Homo sapiens: one gene and its partners. The protein of the gene in region 2 binds, or shares a complex with, the protein of the main gene of each other region. Each region holds a gene or a part of one and is shown on either strand. Other genes may lie near its edges. The genes, in order: HRAS, GRB14 and INSR.

Evidence for each region.
Region 1: the proteins of GRB14 (region 2) and HRAS are in contact, whole or in part, in a crystal structure (PDB 4K81), measured with the Homo sapiens proteins. Residues at the interface, in NP_004481.2 of Homo sapiens: Val109, Lys111, Asp116, Glu117, Thr118, Ser119, Arg120, Ala121, Leu122, Asp123, Lys140, His142; in NP_001123914.1 of Homo sapiens: Glu31, Asp33, Pro34, Ile36, Glu37, Asp38, Ser39, Tyr40, Arg41, Tyr64, Met67.
Region 3: the proteins of GRB14 (region 2) and INSR are in contact, whole or in part, in a crystal structure (PDB 2AUH), measured with the Homo sapiens proteins. Residues at the interface, in NP_004481.2 of Homo sapiens: Glu373, Asn374, Ser375, Leu376, Val377, Ala378, Met379, Asp380, Phe381, Ser382, Ser386, Val388, Ile389, Glu394, Val398, Ala399, Glu401, Glu402, Gly403, Leu404, Trp406, Arg407; in NP_000199.2 of Homo sapiens: Leu1065, Arg1066, Ile1069, Glu1070, Lys1112, Arg1116, Arg1163, Met1180, Arg1182, Tyr1190, Lys1192, Gly1193, Gly1194, Lys1195, Gly1196, Leu1197, Leu1198, Pro1199, Val1200, Trp1202, Ser1207, Leu1208, Lys1209, Asp1210, Gly1211, Gln1235, Asn1242, Glu1243, Leu1246.

What each region holds. Positions count from the first base shown.
Region 1 is NC_000011.10:532,472-539,443, reverse strand, and holds the start of HRAS (GTPase HRas), read left to right. Parts: upstream 1-3,867; 5' UTR 3,868-4,028; intron 4,029-5,068; 5' UTR 5,069-5,121; coding exon 5,122-5,232; intron 5,233-5,499; coding exon 5,500-5,678; intron 5,679-5,831; coding exon 5,832-5,991; intron 5,992-6,085; coding exon of another isoform or gene 6,086-6,167; intron 6,168-6,688; coding exon 6,689-6,808; 3' UTR 6,809-6,813; exon of another isoform or gene 6,814-6,921; 3' UTR 6,922-6,972. UniProt on the Homo sapiens protein: Involved in the activation of Ras protein signal transduction. Ras proteins bind GDP/GTP and possess intrinsic GTPase activity.
Region 2 is NC_000002.12:164,611,460-164,618,564, forward strand, and holds part of GRB14 (growth factor receptor-bound protein 14), read right to left. Parts: intron 1-7,105. UniProt on the Homo sapiens protein: Adapter protein which modulates coupling of cell surface receptor kinases with specific signaling pathways. Binds to, and suppresses signals from, the activated insulin receptor (INSR). Potent inhibitor of insulin-stimulated MAPK3 phosphorylation.
Region 3 is NC_000019.10:7,165,310-7,172,414, forward strand, and holds part of INSR (insulin receptor isoform Long preproprotein), read right to left. Parts: coding exon 6,981-7,105; intron 5,443-6,980; coding exon 5,228-5,442; intron 2,786-5,227; coding exon 2,659-2,785; intron 1,096-2,658; coding exon 845-1,095; intron 1-844. UniProt on the Homo sapiens protein: Receptor tyrosine kinase which mediates the pleiotropic actions of insulin.

The DNA of each region.
Region 1 (6,972 bases), on a different chromosome or scaffold from region 2:
CACTGTCCTCCAGCCTGGGCAACAGAGCAAGACTCTGTCTCAAAAAAAAAAAAAAAAAAGGCTGGGTGCGGTGGCTCACACCTGTAATCCCAGCACTTTGGGAGGCTGAGGCGGGCAGATCACAAGATCAGGAGATCAAGACCATCCTGGCTAACGAGGTGAAACCCCATCTCTACTAAAGATACAAAAAACATAGTTAGCCAGGCGTGGTGGCGGACGCCTGTAGTCCCAGCTACTTGGGAGGCTGAGGCTGGGGAATGGCATGAACCCAGGAGGTGGAGCTTGCAGTGAGCCAAGATGGCACCACTGCACTCCAGCCTGGGCGACAGAGAGAGACTCCATCTCAAAAAACAAACAAACAAACAAAGATGCAGACATCTGCCTCGGCCCCAGGCCCTGGAATCATGAGCTCCAGGCGTGGAGTGACAAGTGTGCTCGGAGCGTCCAGTGTCCTCCTCCCTGACCACCTTCATGTGTCTTCAGTCTGGACCTGGACTGATCCCCTGACTGCACTCCCCACCCAGCCTTCCCAGATTTATCTTCCTGATGAGACGAGTTCCCTTCGGAGCCCTGTGTGTCTTACTACGTGTTCGGTTGAGGGCCTGCCTCGCCCCAGAGCTGTGGGCTGCACGTGGCCTGCACGTGGCCTGCGTGCTCCTCTGCTGTCCACAGTCGCAGGAGGGGATGCTCAAATATTTGTCGAAGGAATCCGTGAACAGGCAGATGCACATGTAGCCACTTAGAACGTTCTGGCCATGGCTTTTATCTGTTGACCACGTGTGGACACTGAAGATGCATCCTCTCCATCCCGTCTAGAGCTGCCCCTGTGCCAGGCGAGTTGGCCGGCTGTTGACAGAGGTGGTGGGTGGGAGTGTTGGAGCGGGGCAGTGGCTCAGGCTCTGGGTGCCTCACTGGCCTGGTCTGGAAGGTGACCATGCACCAAGGATCAAAGAAGTGAAGCCCAAAGCAGAATCTCATGGAGTTTCCAGCCCAAATCTCCCCCACTGCCTGCCTTTCTCCAGCCAGTGCAAGGCCCCAGGCCTCACAGCAGGACCCCAACACTGCATCCCCCCAAAGACTCTGGCCACCTCCATCCCAGGCCTGCCAGCCTCGAGCCTCATGGAGGGCGTGAGCTGGCGGGGTCACGGGCAGCCCCTGGACACCTATGGGTGACACTAAGGGCTGAGTCAGCTACCCTTGTCTCCTCTGTGCCCAAGAGCCCCAAGCATCAGACTGGTCTGAGCCCCAAGGCCTGGGGGTGCAAGGGGTTGGAGGCTGTGGGATCCAAAGACCCCATTGAACTCCCACCTCAGACACTGCACCTAGTGTTCTCACCCAGGCCTGAACCCATCCACACACTTCACGGCCCTGCTCCCACCCTGTGTCCCCTCTGCAAGCCCCCATGCTCCCCAAATTGGTAACTGGGGGGCCTGTCTCCACACCCCTGCTAGTGCCATTCCCTGGTGGGTAGCCATCACCTCTGGGTCCCCTGCTGCCCTCGCCCCTTCACCATGGGGGCTCGGAAGGCAGAGCCCGCTCCCCTCCTGAGCCCCACCCTGGAACCCTGAGCACCCTGGGTCATTGCCTCTGAGTCTCCCTCAGGGGCAGGGCTTGGGGCCCCTCCTGTCTCCTGACAGGGAGCCCTTTCAGTGCAGGGCCAGGGGGTGGTGGAGGCAAGGGTCCTCAGGGGACCAGATCTGACATGCGGGGCCATCACTGGGTCCCCGATGGCTGTGCTGCTTCGTCCCCGCGCCCACGCCTCGGCGCAGGTTCCCTCCTGGCACCGGTCATAGGGCGAGGCTTGCGGCTCCCACCCCAAGGGTGCGCTCGGCTCTCACCTGAGGGCTCAGCCTAGGTGTCCGGCCCTGGCAGCTCGGCCCTGGGCGCCCTCCACCTCCAGGCGCTGTCTCCTACTCCAGGCTGTTCTTCCGGCCGCCGCGGGGTTGCGGCCTGGGCGCCATAGCAACGGGAGCCAGGCCTCATTTGAATACGCAAATATTTATAAGTCGCCGGGGGCTCGGGTTCCGTGCGGCTGAGCCACGCCCCTTAGCAACGGTCGCTAGGGCGGGGCCACGTGGACTGGCACGTGCGTGGGCGCCCCTGCTGCGGGCGATCCCAGGGGAAGGTGACGCGCCACCAACTCGAGTTGGGTGGGCGCAGGCGCGTCAGGTGCCAGCTTCCTGCGGCTCCGTGCCTGGGCCGTCGCGATGCACGTGTCGCGTTTCCTCGCGATCCTGGCGCTTCCCACGCGGGGCGGGTAAAGGCGGTCTCTGCTGGAGGCTCGCGCCCACCTTTCCCAGGTGGAAGGGTCGCCCCTGGGGCCGAGGCCTGCCGTCCTGACCTTCGGTTGGAAGTGAGGCCGACGGCAAAAGGAAGCACCGGGGGAAGCGCCCCCGAGGACCAGGAAACACACACCGGACGCCGGAGCGCACCCGAGTGCCCGGCCCGCGGGACACGCTGCCGCCCGCCGTCCAGTCGCCGCTTCTCACTCGCGTTCATGCGTGTCCGCCCCGAGCCGAGCTCTGACTGCGACCGCGCGGTGGACGGACGGCAGGCGGGACCCCCGGGACCGCACGTGGGTGGAGCCCCGGGTCAGCAGCGACCGGCGCAGGAGGGCGAGGCGGGCGCTGGACTGGGCAGAGGCAGGGTTTGCCTGACTGTAAAACGCCTTTTTTGTTTTGAGACGAAGTAGCGCTCTGTTGCCCAGTGCAGTGGCGCGATTTCGGCTCACCGCAACATCCGCCTCCCGGGTTCCAGCGATTCTCCTGCCTCAGCCTCCCGAGTAGCTGGGACTACAGGCGCGCGCCACTGCAGCCGACTAATTTTTTGTGTTTTTAGTAGAGACAGGGTTTCATCATGTTGGCCAGGCTGGTCTTGAACTCCTGACCTCAAGTAATCCACCCGCTTAGGCCTCCCGAAGTGCTGGGATTATAGGCGTGAGCCACCGCGCCCGGCCCTTTTTGTTTTTTAATGAGGATGTATTTCTGATTCCTTTGCAATTTTAAAAAATGTTAAAAACATGTCTTTTTGGGTTTGAAAGAGCTAGGATGTGCGTCTATGTGCTTGGGGTGAGCCCTGGGCACTTCGCTCCCCTGTGGCAACTTGTGGGTACGGTTTAACTGGACCACGCTGAGCTTCTGCAGCGTTGGAACCTCAAGTTTGGGGGGACTGGGCGGGCAGGGTCGCCTGCCACGCAGGCCCGAGAAAGAGGAGAGTGGTGGAGGGGGCGTTCTCACGCCTGGCCCCAGGGCACACGGCTGCGCCCGCCGCCCGGAACCCCACCGGGGCTGCAAGCGTCCTCGGGGTGGGTTGCGGTGGGAGTAGGGGAGCTGGGGTGCGTGGTGGTAGGTGGGGTGCGCGGCCGCTCCACCTGCGCGGAAGGGCAGCCGGGCAACCGGACCCCGCGGCCACCCGGGGGCCCCCAGCTCCGAGCATCCCGCCTTGGTCCCGGCGGATCCCAGCCTTTCCCCAGCCCGTAGCCCCGGGACCTCCGCGGTGGGCGGCGCCGCGCTGCCGGCGCAGGGAGGGCCTCTGGTGCACCGGCACCGCTGAGTCGGGTTCTCTCGCCGGCCTGTTCCCGGGAGAGCCCGGGGCCCTGCTCGGAGATGCCGCCCCGGGCCCCCAGACACCGGCTCCCTGGCCTTCCTCGAGCAACCCCGAGCTCGGCTCCGGTCTCCAGCCAAGCCCAACCCCGAGAGGCCGCGGCCCTACTGGCTCCGCCTCCCGCGTTGCTCCCGGAAGCCCCGCCCGACCGCGGCTCCTGACAGACGGGCCGCTCAGCCAACCGGGGTGGGGCGGGGCCCGATGGCGCGCAGCCAATGGTAGGCCGCGCCTGGCAGACGGACGGGCGCGGGGCGGGGCGTGCGCAGGCCCGCCCGAGTCTCCGCCGCCCGTGCCCTGCGCCCGCAACCCGAGCCGCACCCGCCGCGGACGGAGCCCATGCGCGGGGCGAACCGCGCGCCCCCGCCCCCGCCCCGCCCCGGCCTCGGCCCCGGCCCTGGCCCCGGGGGCAGTCGCGCCTGTGAACGGTGAGTGCGGGCAGGGATCGGCCGGGCCGCGCGCCCTCCTCGCCCCCAGGCGGCAGCAATACGCGCGGCGCGGGCCGGGGGCGCGGGGCCGGCGGGCGTAAGCGGCGGCGGCGGCGGCGGCGGCGGGTGGGTGGGGCCGGGCGGGGCCCGCGGGCACAGGTGAGCGGGCGTCGGGGGCTGCGGCGGGCGGGGGCCCCTTCCTCCCTGGGGCCTGCGGGAATCCGGGCCCCACCCGTGGCCTCGCGCTGGGCACGGTCCCCACGCCGGCGTACCCGGGAGCCTCGGGCCCGGCGCCCTCACACCCGGGGGCGTCTGGGAGGAGGCGGCCGCGGCCACGGCACGCCCGGGCACCCCCGATTCAGCATCACAGGTCGCGGACCAGGCCGGGGGCCTCAGCCCCAGTGCCTTTTCCCTCTCCGGGTCTCCCGCGCCGCTTCTCGGCCCCTTCCTGTCGCTCAGTCCCTGCTTCCCAGGAGCTCCTCTGTCTTCTCCAGCTTTCTGTGGCTGAAAGATGCCCCCGGTTCCCCGCCGGGGGTGCGGGGCGCTGCCCGGGTCTGCCCTCCCCTCGGCGGCGCCTAGTACGCAGTAGGCGCTCAGCAAATACTTGTCGGAGGCACCAGCGCCGCGGGGCCTGCAGGCTGGCACTAGCCTGCCCGGGCACGCCGTGGCGCGCTCCGCCGTGGCCAGACCTGTTCTGGAGGACGGTAACCTCAGCCCTCGGGCGCCTCCCTTTAGCCTTTCTGCCGACCCAGCAGCTTCTAATTTGGGTGCGTGGTTGAGAGCGCTCAGCTGTCAGCCCTGCCTTTGAGGGCTGGGTCCCTTTTCCCATCACTGGGTCATTAAGAGCAAGTGGGGGCGAGGCGACAGCCCTCCCGCACGCTGGGTTGCAGCTGCACAGGTAGGCACGCTGCAGTCCTTGCTGCCTGGCGTTGGGGCCCAGGGACCGCTGTGGGTTTGCCCTTCAGATGGCCCTGCCAGCAGCTGCCCTGTGGGGCCTGGGGCTGGGCCTGGGCCTGGCTGAGCAGGGCCCTCCTTGGCAGGTGGGGCAGGAGACCCTGTAGGAGGACCCCGGGCCGCAGGCCCCTGAGGAGCGATGACGGAATATAAGCTGGTGGTGGTGGGCGCCGGCGGTGTGGGCAAGAGTGCGCTGACCATCCAGCTGATCCAGAACCATTTTGTGGACGAATACGACCCCACTATAGAGGTGAGCCTGGCGCCGCCGTCCAGGTGCCAGCAGCTGCTGCGGGCGAGCCCAGGACACAGCCAGGATAGGGCTGGCTGCAGCCCCTGGTCCCCTGCATGGTGCTGTGGCCCTGTCTCCTGCTTCCTCTAGAGGAGGGGAGTCCCTCGTCTCAGCACCCCAGGAGAGGAGGGGGCATGAGGGGCATGAGAGGTACCAGGGAGAGGCTGGCTGTGTGAACTCCCCCCACGGAAGGTCCTGAGGGGGTCCCTGAGCCCTGTCCTCCTGCAGGATTCCTACCGGAAGCAGGTGGTCATTGATGGGGAGACGTGCCTGTTGGACATCCTGGATACCGCCGGCCAGGAGGAGTACAGCGCCATGCGGGACCAGTACATGCGCACCGGGGAGGGCTTCCTGTGTGTGTTTGCCATCAACAACACCAAGTCTTTTGAGGACATCCACCAGTACAGGTGAACCCCGTGAGGCTGGCCCGGGAGCCCACGCCGCACAGGTGGGGCCAGGCCGGCTGCGTCCAGGCAGGGGCCTCCTGTCCTCTCTGCGCATGTCCTGGATGCCGCTGCGCCTGCAGCCCCCGTAGCCAGCTCTCGCTTTCCACCTCTCAGGGAGCAGATCAAACGGGTGAAGGACTCGGATGACGTGCCCATGGTGCTGGTGGGGAACAAGTGTGACCTGGCTGCACGCACTGTGGAATCTCGGCAGGCTCAGGACCTCGCCCGAAGCTACGGCATCCCCTACATCGAGACCTCGGCCAAGACCCGGCAGGTGAGGCAGCTCTCCACCCCACAGCTAGCCAGGGACCCGCCCCGCCCCGCCCCAGCCAGGGAGCAGCACTCACTGACCCTCTCCCTTGACACAGGGCAGCCGCTCTGGCTCTAGCTCCAGCTCCGGGACCCTCTGGGACCCCCCGGGACCCATGTGACCCAGCGGCCCCTCGCGCTGTAAGTCTCCCGGGACGGCAGGGCAGTGAGGGAGGCGAGGGCCGGGGTCTGGGCTCACGCCCTGCAGTCCTGGGCCGACACAGCTCCGGGGAAGGCGGAGGTCCTTGGGGAGAGCTGCCCTGAGCCAGGCCGGAGCGGTGACCCTGGGGCCCGGCCCCTCTTGTCCCCAGAGTGTCCCACGGGCACCTGTTGGTTCTGAGTCTTAGTGGGGCTACTGGGGACACGGGCCGTAGCTGAGTCGAGAGCTGGGTGCAGGGTGGTCAAACCCTGGCCAGACCTGGAGTTCAGGAGGGCCCCGGGCCACCCTGACCTTTGAGGGGCTGCTGTAGCATGATGCGGGTGGCCCTGGGCACTTCGAGATGGCCAGAGTCCAGCTTCCCGTGTGTGTGGTGGGCCTGGGGAAGTGGCTGGTGGAGTCGGGAGCTTCGGGCCAGGCAAGGCTTGATCCCACAGCAGGGAGCCCCTCACCCAGGCAGGCGGCCACAGGCCGGTCCCTCCTGATCCCATCCCTCCTTTCCCAGGGAGTGGAGGATGCCTTCTACACGTTGGTGCGTGAGATCCGGCAGCACAAGCTGCGGAAGCTGAACCCTCCTGATGAGAGTGGCCCCGGCTGCATGAGCTGCAAGTGTGTGCTCTCCTGACGCAGGTGAGGGGGACTCCCAGGGCGGCCGCCACGCCCACCGGATGACCCCGGCTCCCCGCCCCTGCCGGTCTCCTGGCCTGCGGTCAGCAGCCTCCCTTGTGCCCCGCCCAGCACAAGCTCAGGACATGGAGGTGCCGGATGCAGGAAGGAGGTGCAGACGGA
Region 2 (7,105 bases):
CTTAAGTAATCAAATAAATGATTTGAGGGTGGAGAAAGATAAATTTAGAGAATTCAGAGGTTACGACCACCCCGTACCTATTAAACCAAGTAGAGCCAAATGTGTATTGGACCTATGCCGGCCTCAAGTGGTCACATCTTATCTCGTATCCTTATTTCTAAGTTTAGATGCTTGGTCCTGTACTTTAACTTCACCACTTGAGCTGGCTCCTACTAGATGTGATTCCTTTTCTGATTCTTCTTCTAATATTTGAACTATGACTTTGCTGCAGTTTCTAGTTTAACCAGACCCTTCTGCCCCAATTATTTCCATGAATGTGACTCCTGTGCTCTTTGTCCTATGACACCCCAAACATACTCTTTATCACAAAAAAGTGTGGTCACTATATGGGAATACCTGAACAGAGGCTAAGAGGGAGCTTCTAGGGCTAGTGGAACAAAAGAAACCCTGCTTTCCACGACTCCTGTATCTGCTGCACAGGAGCCATTACTGCTTCTGGAGCCATCAGAATCACTTGCTCTAGGAATACAATAAAATTGTAGAGCTCTCAGGTACAGAAAGGGTGAGCAATGGGCTGATATAACACCCCTCATCTGTAGTAGGACTGTATTAAAAACTAGGTTTGCTGATTCCTGTTCCAATATCTTTCAGTCACATCATATTGACACATCTTTCCACAGAAGCAATTTTAAAAACGGTACACGCAATGTTGTAAGAGCACTATACTTTGGAGCCATTATGGATTTTAAGGCTTTGGCCTGACCACCTAACCACTGCATGTAACAATACGTCTATGGAAAAATGTATGTGAATAAATGGCCAATTTATTAAAGATCTTCTGGAATACAAGCATTTGTAAGCTGGTTAAGAATATTAAACCTCCTATTTGTGTTTATTTTTTCTGTGGCTTTGAAAAAATGTTAAATGAGTGGGCCAAAGAAAAGGACAAGAATTAAAGGATGGTCTCCCTATGTCAGTCCTGCCATTTCTCTTCTAAATTAATCCTGAACCCTTTCTTTCTACTCCCTTGCCTTGGCAAAGACTTGTGGCCATTCTCTGGGGTCTCCCTTGAGCTGACCTTTATCTGTAATGTCAAAAGGACAATTCTCAGGTCTGCTTACCACCATTGAAATACACATAAGCATATACTTATACAATAGAGTTTATTACTATTTGACATAAGCTGACGTTTTTTCAAAGCAATATCCATAAGACTGCAGAAATCTTTTTTATATTAATTAAAATCCACACTTATATTGAACCATGATGACTCCAATTTTCTTTCTCTTGACAGAACATATTATATGCCCCAGGGAAAAACAAACCAGAAGCTGAGATTTCAATAACGTTAAAAAGAAAACCCATATTGTAGATAAAGCTTGGACTGCAAATGTACCCTGCAAATTAACCAAAAATTAAAGGCAACCTTCAAACTAGAAATAAAACCTTGACAAATAGAAGATCTGCTAGGGGATTTAAGTTTTAAAATAGGAAAAGAAAGCTAACTTCTCCTACAATGAAGGTAACTAGCATAAGGTGGGAAGGAACCTGAGTTGGTAATTCCTGTCATCAGGGGTTAAGGGACCTCAGTAAGACGTAAGCTCAGGAAAATGGACAAGGAAGCTGAGCATCCCTGAAGGGTGACATCAACTGAAACAACTGCCCAATAAGTATGCTTCACGTACATTAAGTGAATTGAGACAAAGGAGCTGAACACTCTGAACTGGGTACGTTAAGTCAAATAAACCAATTGGTGGATCATCATATATCATACAAATATGATTAGAATTAGTTTTTGTGTCCTGTTTGAGATCTTTTTTTTCCCCTAGGACACTAGCTGCCCCTAGGACATAGTGCCTCCATATGCCATACCTACTAAACCTGTACCTCTTTCTCACATGTTACCACACCCTTGCAGACTGAACAGTGGTCCAGGGCCCACTGTCCCCTTGGCCACATCTGATTGAATAGGATCTGGACACACTGGACTAACATACCTCTCCAGATACAGTTCCCAGTCAGTTACCAAGTACTGAACCACTAATAGGTGGAAAACTTGGGAGCAGCCACTTGAGGCCGCTGGCACTGACATGAAATCAGGGCAAGCAACACTGCAAAGAAATCTCAAAAATGATGTGAATTTGCAAGGAGAGGCAGAGACTATGTGGTATGTTTGTGGGAGAACAAAAGAGAGAGAATAGAGAAAGTGGTTGACTTGATTTTTGCTGACTTTCTTGCTCCCAATTTCAGCCTCTCATGAGACCAGTGACCTTTTGGCCTTCAGGTACTACAACACAGCCTTTCAGGCTGGTTCATTTGAGGCTCTGTTTTGTCTGAACAATCAATACCTGGCTAAAATACCAACTAAAGGCCATTTGTAACATACTCACCTTTGTCAACAAAACACAACTGTCCTCAGTTTTGAAAGGTCCAATTGCCCCAGTTTGAAAATGGTAGAGATTAAGAGTAGCACTGATTTGTATACATATCAAAGAGAAAAAAATATAAAAAATCAAATTCCTATAACCTCCCCCAGAACATTCCTATTCAGTGGGTTTTGCAAGAGGTCCAAGTATCCATATTTTTAATAAGCATCCCTGCTGATTCTGAAGAAGGTGATTTAATGACCACACTTTGAGAAGCGCAGCTGTAAAGCCTGCTTCAACACTGCTACAAAGATCTGCACGCTTTCAAATTCTCCCAAAAAATTATATTCATCAAGTGACAGCACTCAAAAGTAGCAAATTGCCGTTGGAAAGATAGATTTGTTTGAAACCCTAATAGGAGAGAGTATTGTTTCTATCATTCTTTCTGCATATATGTTTTGTTTCCAATTAAATGGGATTTTGTAAAATAGCTCAGAGGGCCTAAATACAATTTATGATGTTGTTTCCATCTAAAAATGAATTTAAACTTCCAAAGAGCTAATTTTCAGACATTTGAAAGCTAAGCAGTTTGTAATTTGAGAATTTCATGAGCCATTCCAACTGAGAAAATTCAATTATGAATGGTTTTAGACGATATCAAGGAATTGCTGTTATTTATGTTAGGGAATAATGGCATTTGGGATATAAAAGAAAATTCATTTTTCAGAGATGAATACAAAACTACGTAGAGATGCAATGATGGGGTGTCCAGGATATACTTCAAAATACTTTAGCAAAGAAAATAAAATTTTTAAAAAAGAAATAGATGGAGTAAATGAGGCAAAATCTTGATAATTGCTGAGTCTGGAAAAACTACAATATGTACATGGGTTTCTCTTCTTTTACTTCTATGTATACTAGAAAAATAAGTATATGAAATTTCAGTTAATGTAGCAGCCACACAAGATTCCTATAGGACCACACATACAAGTTCAGCATGTCCAAAGTGGGGTAATTACTGGCATCACAAAGGAATGATATAAGAGGCCCTTTAATTTGGGGACAGAGATCTGCTTATCCTTTGAAAGTCCGTGACATGGTAGAGAAAAAAGAAATAAAAGGCCGAGCATATGGAAAACTAATTTTTTAATTATTTGAGATAAATTTTTATTTTTCTGAGACATACAAAAAAAGGCTTAATTTAATAAAGAATACACTAGAAACAGTGTGGTAAGGGACAGGACACATTGAGACATGATACTCTTTTTGATCTCCCTTTATTTAAACTGTGGAAGCATGGGCAAATCCCTTCCAGTTTTTGCATACTCTTTTTGTAATCTTAAAATGCAGGTGACATACTCATTTTCTTGTGTTCCCATGAAATAATATCCTGTGGACCGTAAACCACACACAAAAGCTGGTTATTAATAATACTAATAAATCTTATTTGATAATAAAATCAAATATTTGATAGATTTCTCAGACCAATTTTAGGGAGAAGATGGAGAAGAAAGCTAGAAGAAAAAACGTAGTTACATTTCGGGAAGAAATAAAAAGAGGAATTCCAGGTCCTTAGATGAATATTAACAAATGGCGTTTGTCTCCCCTGTTCTTCTTGTGTTATGAGGAGAGTTGTAACTAACAACACTGGTACACATGTATTATTATACTACTCTTATTTACAGTCCTTGCTTTCTTTAGAAATTGTACCTTCCTAAAAAGGGACTGTCAAAGCCTCAAGAAATCCAGATTTCAGGTGCTGGCTGTGCCACATAGCATTCCTTAAACTCAATTTACGTATCACTAAAGAAGAATATTGGAATAGAAGATCTGAAAAATCCCATCCAACTCAAACATTTCATGACACTGGTTTTCATAGCATTTTTTAAATCTCTAAAGCCTTCAGAGGCTTTATTCTTACTTAGTTGTACAACATAGTCCTGGGAAGCAATTAACCAGAGCTACTACACAGGCTATGTCCAAGCACAAAAATTACCTAGGGGTCAACAAAAAAGACAAGAACTGATTCTGCTGCAAGAGCTAAATAAAGATTTCTAACTCTTTGCTTTCCTTCAAACAATAGGTGTTTAGGGTTCATTACTAACAGATGATTTCCTTATAAATTTAAATCATAAATTAGAAAAAAGAGATTAAGTTCATAATGGAAGTCACTTTTAATATAAGTAACTTTTCTGGACCATGTATGTAAGGGAAGGTATACTTTAAATTTGCTTTATTAGTAAACACAAAGAAAGATGCCTAGGAAATCTGGCCATCATTATAAAAAGAGGGAAAGGGAATAAAGAATATGAATTCTCGCGGGGCACAGGGGCTCATGCCTGTAATCCCAGCACTTTGGGAGGCCAAGGCGGGTGGATCATGAGGTCAGGAGATGGAGATCATCCTGGCTAACACGGTAAAACCCTGTCTCTACTAAAAATACAAAAAAAATTAGCTGGGCGTGGTGGCAGGCACCTCTAGTCCCAGCTACTCGGGAGGCTGAGGCAGGAGAATGGCATGAACCCAGGAGGCAGAGCTTGCAGTAAGCCGAGATTGTGCCACTGCACTCCAGCCTGGGCGACAGAGCGAGACTCCGTCTCAAAAAAAAAAAAAAAAAAAAAAAAAGAATATGGATTCTCTCTCACTCTAGCTTTCATTTAAAAATAATGGTACTGAAAGCCTACAGTATTGTACACTTTGGGACATTTTATTTGCAAAAAGTGATAAAACATATCCCATTTGTGGCTTCAATGCACTTTACCACTCATGCATTATGTAGGCATCTCAAATAGTAAACAAAATTTATGACTTGTAAGATGGTTTTTGACTGTGATTTTGAAAGGCCAGATGAAATTTAACATTTTTAGTCTGGATTCTCTCAAATTTTCTGGTCATTGATTTGTAAATAACAAGTACAATTATTTTCTTCACTTTTTCTGTGGAGAGAAAAGAATCACTAAAATGACTGGAATGGTTAAACAGGACAAATGAGAGAGAATATAAAGTAAAGAGACATCTTCTCCTATAATATTTCAACCATAAATAATACTCAGTAGAACATATCGCATAGTCACTTACATCATCTCAACTGAAGGTTACAGATAAACTGGGCCAAAAACAGCATCTTGTAAAAGGGTAATATGTGTTGCAAAGCTACTGAGTTGGGGGACTCACTTACATAGAGTCATCTATTCTCAAAACCTTCCTCATTTCAAAGAACTGAGTGTGTATAAAGAAACTAAAGCAAAAGGATCAGTTCTAAATGCAAAGTCTAGGTGGGGGAAAAAGGAAGCATAAAATAAAGTAAAAAGCAGCCTCCCTCCTCCTCAACTTTGGGGTACCCTTGTCTTCATAGAGATCTCAACCATTGGGCCAAGGAAGAGATCAGCAAGAAGGGCCCTTCAAAGGTAGGGACAGCCCTCTGGGATGGATCTTTAAAAATCAGGCGGGGACTCTCTGCTCAGGGAACAGTACAGGTGTGTGTGTGGGTACAGTGTTCTTTGAGAAGGTCATTGTGGACACAGGATACAAGGCCAGAGCAGGAAACCTATTGGGGTCAATAACAATATCACCTTTTCCCCATTTCCAGTTTGCTATTTTTTTTTTGCCCATTTTCCAGTTTAAACCTGATCTGAGGAAATGTCATCAATCTCTAAGACGTCTTACTCTAGTCTGATGACTATCCACACTTAGGGCACATCCTGCCTTAACCCTGGCACTTTACCCATTCTTTCTCTTTTGTCCCCTATACTAACATAAGCATACCAACACCTCTTCTCACTTTCTATTCAAAACAAACCCTGCATCATCAACAAATCTCTCAGACACAGGCATTCTGCAAGTGTCCATTCATAGCATTAAAGTGAGTCAGCCCAGATATCCTTCCCTTTACTTTCCTTCTGGTTCAGGCTCCACCCGCTACCACAACCCCAAATCAAAGCCCCATCTTTTAAATATATCTTGCATGGTATTGTTGCTTAGCTAGGGTCCTTACTGCCTAGGATTTGTGAGAAACATAGCAGGCCCTTAGTAATTTGGGAACTACCTATTAAATTCTTCCAGATGACCATTATGTCATCATCAGACATTTCCTTTTCTTACTCTGGCTCAAGGACAAGCCAGAATCTTTTTTTTGGGGGGGGGGGGGTAGTGTCAGCGGGGGACAGATTCTCGCTCTGTCGTTCAGAGTGGAGTGCAGGGGCACAATCTCAGCTCACTGCAGCCTCCGCCTCCTGGGTTCAAGCGATTCTCCTGCCTCCGCCTCCCGAGTAGCTGGGACTACAGGTGCAGGCCACCACACCCAGCTAATTTTTGTATTTTTAGTGGAGACGGGGTTTTACCATGTTGGACAGGATGGTCTCAATCTTCAGACTTCGTGATCTGCCCGCCTCAGCCTCCCAAAGTGCTGGGATTACTGGGATTACAGGCGTGAGCCACCGCACCCGGCCTCTTTTTTTTTTTTCCACTACCATGGCACACAGTCAAATCTATTATCCTTACTTCCATTTTCTATCCAAACCAAAAAGTCAACTCTCAAAGAGCTTGGAAGTTTCACTAGGGCTGTTTTTTCCTTGGGATCTGACTTTAAACCTCATCCTGATAATAAAGGTCTCAAGAGAGTCTCCTCTTTGTCTCCCCAAACAAAGTTACAGTCCCACCCACTTAAGGGTTTATTCCCCCTTTCAAAGATGCCAATTCAGAACATAGTTCTGCTTCTAGAAAAATTTATTCCCATTTTC
Region 3 (7,105 bases), on a different chromosome or scaffold from region 2:
AATTGCTGTGAAATACTCCAGGCCAAAACAAACAACAAAACAAAAAGAAGTAACAAGTGGGAAGAGGGAACAGGCGTCGAGATGAAACAAAAATGACCAAAGGCTGAAGCTGGGAGGCGGCTAACTATGGGGTTTTGTTCTGTGTTGTGAATATTTGACAATTTTTCATAATAGGATGAAAAATATAAATATTCCCATCAAGTGGCTTGTTGCTACTGCCTCGTCTGAAACTATAAGCCTCAATACCCAGCTCCTTTAAAAGCCAATAACTGACTGGGCAAGGTGGCTCACACTTCTAATCCCAGGACTTTGGGAGGCCGAGGCAGGAGGATCACTTGAGGCCAGGGGTTCAAGACCAGCCTGGGTAACACAGCAACGTTCTGTCTCTACAAGAAATACAAAAATTAGCTGGGTATAGTGGTGCATGCCTGTAGTCCCAGCTACTCAGGAGGCTGAGGTGGGAGAATTACTTGAACCTGGGAGGCGGAGGTTGCAGTGAGCCGAGATCATGCCATTGCACTCCAGTCCGGGTGACAGAGTGAGACTTCATCTCAAAGAAAAAAAAAAAAAAAAGCCACACATGGTGGTATACTCTGGTAGTTCCTTCTACTTAGGAGGCTGAGGCAGAAGGATTGCTTGAGCCCAGGAGTTTGAGGCTGCAGTGAGCCATGATCACCCCACTGCATTGCACTCTAGCCTGGGTGACAAAGTAAGACCCTGTCTAAAAAAAAAAAAAAAGCCAATAACCATATCAAGGAGCATTTTATACAACCTCACTGCATCAGCCTATTAAAAGCAAGAGGTCTGATTCACATACGAATTCACATTCCCAAGACACACTCACTGGTGGCATCTGTCTGGACATAAATGATGTCACTCTTGGCCCCATAGGTCCGGCGTTCATCCGAAAAGGTGACCAGGGTCTTCACAAAGATGGCATACTGGGTCCAGGGCTTGAGACCCCGCATCAGCCACCCTGGGTGGTTCTGTGATTTGGGGTCGTTGGACCTCAGGGGTGGGTCAATGTCTACCACCGTCCAACTGTTGGAACCACACGCATCCTGCCCGTCGAACTCCGTCACATTCTGATAAGGGCTTTCAAGACAAAACAGCAGAAGGCAGTTACCCTTACAAGACCGTCACACTGAGTGCCGTGCAGATGAGGCCTGGGAAGTTACATCCCATAGGGTCACATGTTACTCACCCAACAATCTAATGCCACAAGAAAAAATAACTCGGGAACAGCCAAAGAGAAAGGAACTGTCAACCCTGACATCTCAATGAAAAAACACAGCTTGGGCATCCCTTATTCAAAACACTTGAGACTTGGCCAAGTGCAGTGGCTCACGCCTGTAATCCCAGCACTTTGGGAGGCCGAGAATGGCGGATCACCAGAAGTCAGGAGTTCGAGACCAGCCTGGCCAACATGGTGAAACCCCGTCTCTACTAAAAATACAAAAATTATCTGGGCATGGTGGCAGATGCTTGTAATCCCAGCTATTCAGGAGGTTGAGGCAGGAGAATTGCTTGAACCCGGGAGGCAGAGGTAGCATCAGCTGAGATCGCACCACTGCACTCCAGCCTGGGCGACAAAGGGAGACTCTGTTTCAAAAACATAAATAAATAAATAAATAAATAAATGCTTGGGACCAGAAGTGTTTTGGATTTTGGATATTTTGGGGTTTTGAAATATTTGCATTTTACTAGTTAATTTGCATTGTACTGGTTCAGCATCTCTAATCTAAAAATCTGAAATCTGAAATGCTCCAATAAGCATCTCCTTTGAGTATCAAGTCGGCCCACAAAAAGCTTTGGATTTTGGAGCATTATAAATTTCAGATTTTCAGATTAGGGATACTCAATCTGTAATAATAGTAATAGCAGGAGCTCCCTCACAAGTTACTGATAAGATTAGACTGTGTGTCAGTGCTCAGCAAGGCACAAGGTAAATCTTGAGGGCTAGAACTATTATTAATATTACTACTGGTCAGGTGCGGTGGCTCATGCCTGTAATCCCAGCACTTTGGGAGGCCAAGGTGGGCAGATCACCTGAGGTCAGGAGTTTGAGACCAGCCTGGCCAACATGGCAAAACCCGTCTCTATCAAAAATACACAAATTAGCTACGTGTGATGGTGTATGCCCATAATCTCAGCTACTCAAGAGACTGAGGCAGGAGAACTGCTTGAACCCGGGAGGCAGAGGTTGCAGTGAGCCAAGATCTGCCACTGCACTGTACCCTGGGCAACAGAGCAAGACTCTGTCTCAAAAAAAAAAAAAAAATTGGGGATAAAAAAGAAAAATAGATAAGCAATACATTTGATAACATCCACTTAGTAGACTGAGCTCCTGACTACTAAGGATGTCTGATGAGACATACACAGGCAAGGCAAAATAGAATATTGCCCCAGGAAACTGGCCAGTCCGGGCTTCTATGGGAAAGCTGTCTGCTTCCATTTTAGGCATTTGATAAAAGCAGACACTATTGACTTTGCATGCCATCGACTGGTGAGATTGTAAAAAGGAACCTAAGATATTTATTCCAGGAGGAGGAGGGAGATAGACAGGAACCCAAGAGGGGCAGATTGGAGCACAAACGTAGCAAGCACAGAGCCAGCCAGCCCTCGCCTCCTCAGCGTCTCTCTAACTCTTCTACTTACGCCTCTTTGTAGAACAGCATGAACCCCAAGAGGTCTCGGAAGTCGGGGGGCCAGTACGGCTCCCATCTCAGCAAGATCTTGTCAAAAGATGTCCGAATGTAAGAAAATTTAAGTAACTCATTTTCACCTGGAAAAGTTAAAACAAAAGGCAAAAATGAGCTATTTCAGTGTAGTTTCAGACCAAAGCCTGGGACCCCCACACTTCCTGGAGGGACCGTGAGAAGGCAGAGGTGACGCTGCTATTCCCTTAAGGGTCTCCTCCCCATGTGCCTGGCTGAGTATGAATGGGGGAAGATTCAAAGGTAAGAGCCAGTTTTGCAACTTGGCCACTCACACTCACGTAAGCCAATGACTTGACTCAGCCAGACAGTCAACTGAATAAGCGCAGTCTGTACCCGCGCAAGAAGGACAACCGGCCAATAGTTATTGGAGGAAGGGATTTCCAAGGGTGATGTTTGTCCTGACACAACGTTGTCTCGCATATGGACTTGTAAGACTGACCTGGAAGGAGGTGCAACTCCAGTGCAAATAAACCTATGCCAAGTGAGTTTAGAGACCCTGCAGATCATTAGACATCGGAGAGACGCATCTAAGTAATTCTCTCTGCCTAGAAGACAAACCCTCTCCTAAACCTCACCCCAACCTCGCTCTCTCTCCTTGCACTACATTTTTTTTGAGACAGTCTTGCTCTGTCACCAAGGCTGGAGTGCAGTCCACCTACCGGGTTTAAGCAATTCTCATGCCTCAGCCTCTCAAGTAGCTGGGATTACAGGCACCCACCACCACGTCCAGCTAGTTTTTGTATTTTTTTTTTTTAGTAGAGATGGAGTTTCACCACATTGGCCAGGCTGGTCTCGAACTCCTGACCTCAAGTGATCTGCCTGCCTCGGCCTCCCAGAGTGCTGGGATTCCAGGCGTGAGCCACCATGCCCAGCCCTTGCACTACATTTTGACATAAGTAACTAACTCCCCATGAAGGTATCCCAGAAGCCCTTGGCAGCTCACTGTTTAGAATCTGTCAGGGAAGTGCAGTCAGCAGGCAGCCTGCAGCTGCAGAAACTGCAGGACCTGCTGTAGCATTCCAGCCAAAACCTGACTCTCCCTGGACAGCCCCCACCTATGACTGAGCTTGGTAGATGCCTGGCCGTCCCTTTGCAATGCAGAACTTCCCTGCAGACAACCGTGGCCTTGATCTCTTTCTGGGTTTGGCCAAGACTCAGGGATGCATCACCATCTGAGACTCTCCCAGCCCTATCCTCCCTCCTTCCCGCTCTCTGTTCACAGAGGTCAGACACACGCTATTGTCAAAAGGCTCTTCATGGCTGAGCGTGGTGACTCACACCTGTAATCTCAGCACTTTGGGAGGCCGAGGCGGGAGGATCACCTGAGGTCAGGAGTTCAAGACCACCCTGGCCAACATGGCAAAACCCTGTCTCTACTAAAAATACAAAAAAAAAAATTAGCCGGGCTTGGTGGCATGTGCCTGTAATCCCAGCTATTCTGGAGGCTGAGGCGAGATAATTACCTGAACCCAGGGGAAGGAGGTTGCAGTGAGGCAAGATCACGCCACTGCACTCCAGCCCTGGGTGACAGAGCAAGACTCTGTCCCAAAAAAAAAAAAAAAAAAAAAAGAAGCTCTTCCTCTGTTTCATATTTTATGAATATTACCCTCAATACATTTTCTGCACTCCTAACTTCAACTTGGCAGTCACTTCCCAGGAGATGCAGACTGACATAGGTATTTTACTCAACTTTGAAGTCTTCAGCATCAGCCTGATACACATATAAGAAGGTGTCATCCATTCATCCATCATTCATTCATCCATTCATTCAGTGCTTGTATGACTTCATCCCGTATCCGGTACTATATGGCACAGTAAGCATAGTGATAATATTAATAAATGTGCAGAATCTGCCCTCAGTAAGAAAGCCTATCACACAGTGAGTTGTTAGAGGGAAGTAATACCCCCTGGGGGTGACTGTGATGGATGAGAGAGGACAGCCACATTATCTGGTTTGTGGACCACTTACAGCAGGGGTCCCCAGCCCCTGGGCCACAGACCAGTACTTATCCATGGCCTGTTACGAACAGGGCTGTACAGCAGGAGGTGAGTGATAGGTGAGCAAGTGAAGCTTCATCTGTATTTACAGTCACTCCCCATCGCTTGCATGACCACCTGAGTTCTGCCTCCTGTCAGATTAGCGGCGGCATTAGATTCTCACAGGGGTGTGAACCCTATTGTGAACTGTGTACATGAGGTACCTAGACTGCACACTCCTTATGAAAATCTAATGCCTGATGATCTGTCACTGTCTCCCATCACCCCCAGCTGGGACCATCTAGTTGCAGGAACACAAGCTCAGGGTTCCCATTGATTCTACATGATGGTGAGTTGTACAATTCTTTCATTATATATTACAATGTAATCATAATAGGAATAAAGTGCATAGTAAATGTAATGCACTTGAATCATGCTGAAACCATCCCCACCCACCACCAGTCCATGGAAAAACCATCTTCCACTACACCGGTCCCTCATGCCAAAAAGGTTGGGGACCAGTGACTTACAGGATGCCTGGTCCCCATTGGTCTTCAGGGCAATGTCGTTTCTCTCCTGGCGCCCCTTGGTTCCTGAAACTTCTTCCATCTTGTGGATTTCTGACAAGCAGAGTTTGGGGTTATAGTGGAAGAAGAGTTTCCCCTGAGTGATGGTGAGGTTGTGTTTGCTCCAGTCCCAGAGCTGCCTTAGGTTCTGGTTGTCCAAGGCATAGAAGGAGTAGTTCCTATGGAAAAAACACACACATCTAGTCATTCAACGGCTGGTCTTCTACAACTCCAAGATGGTGTGGCCATGCTCGGAGTTGATCTTGTTCAGTGCTACGTGCCTAATCCTCTCCACTTGCTTGGCACATACTCAACACATATTTGTTGAATGTGGATAACAGAGGAAGTTGAGGAAGTTTTCATGGCCAGGAAGGAGGCTCAGCTCAGTCTTGAAGAGGGGTGGTGAGTCTGTGATGGACTGAGGAATAGGTTTTGCAGAAACCAATTTCTGCAAATAGGGGAAATACTGATAACACAGAGGCACCTAAGCTGAGTTCAGGGAAGAGCAAAGTAGCCTGTTTTGGCCAATAGGTGACAGGAAATAGCTGTAGTTGCAATGGACCAGACCCTCTAGTATATTGCATGCCAGACCAAGACCAAGAACATGTGGCCATCCTTAATAAGGAGAAAGGAGCCATTGAAGGTTTTTGTTTGTTTGTTTGTTTGTTTTATTGAGATGGATTCTCACTCTGGTGCCTAGGCTGGAGTACAGATAATATAGTCTAAACTATATTGTTTAGACCACCTTCTCAAGTCACTTACCAGCTCATGTTGATTAACATGTCCTTTTGTCCCTTTCCCCATTTGCTGTCTGTTCTACAGATGTGAGGCTGGGGCTGAGGCAGCCATCTTGTGACCATGAGGAGCACAAAGATGGAAAGAATCTGGGTCTTCCACAGACCTCCTGCCTATGAGTCAATCTTGATCTAGCTAGTTTGAGTTTCTGCTGTTTTGCTAATAGAGTTTCTAGGACCTCAAGGAGAAGGTTGGAATATACTGGAATATACTGAGATGGAGTCCATCCCAGAAATTAGGATGGACAACCGGGACTAAGAGGGAATGTTCATTTTATGCATGCCAAACTCTACTCACAATGCAGCCCAAACAGCAAATTTAGCAAAAATTCCAGCCTGTACCCTTGGAGGATGGGCACCAAGGTTGGGCTGCTCCCACTTTTGTTTCTCAAGAATGACTATAAAAAAGCTTTTACAATTTTTGGCTGGATGGACCTTTAGGCACATTCCAAGTTCTTTTTTCCCGAGGTTTTGCCAGATATACTTTTATTTGTTTTTTATTTGTTTTTATTTGATTTTTAAAAAATCCTTAAGTTTTTCCTTTTCTTTTCTTTTTTTTTTTTTGGACAGAGTCTCACTCTGTCACCCAGGCTGGAGTGCAGTAGTGTGATCTTGGCTCACTGCAACCTCTGCCTCCCAGGTTCAAGCTATTCTCCTGCCTCAGCCTCCCAAGTAGCTGGGATTACAGGCATGCACTATCACACTTGGCTAATTTTTGTACTTTTAGTAGAGACAGGGTTTCACCATGTTGGCCAGGCTGGTCTTGAACTCCCCGCCTCAAGTGATTCACCCACGTTGGCCTCCTAAAATGCTGGGATTACAGGCATCAGCCACCACACCTGGCCAAAAAAATCCTTAAGTTGTTCTAATACACGAACTTCCTAGTTAGCACTCAGGCCATACACACAATCAGGCCCACGTACCCAATTTCCAAGGTCTCTCCTCGAATCAGACGTAACTTCCGGAAGAAGGAAAGTGACACCAGAGCGTAGGATCGGCGGATTTTTAGATACCCTGAAATTTCTTCAATGAGGCCGAGGTTGGCTTC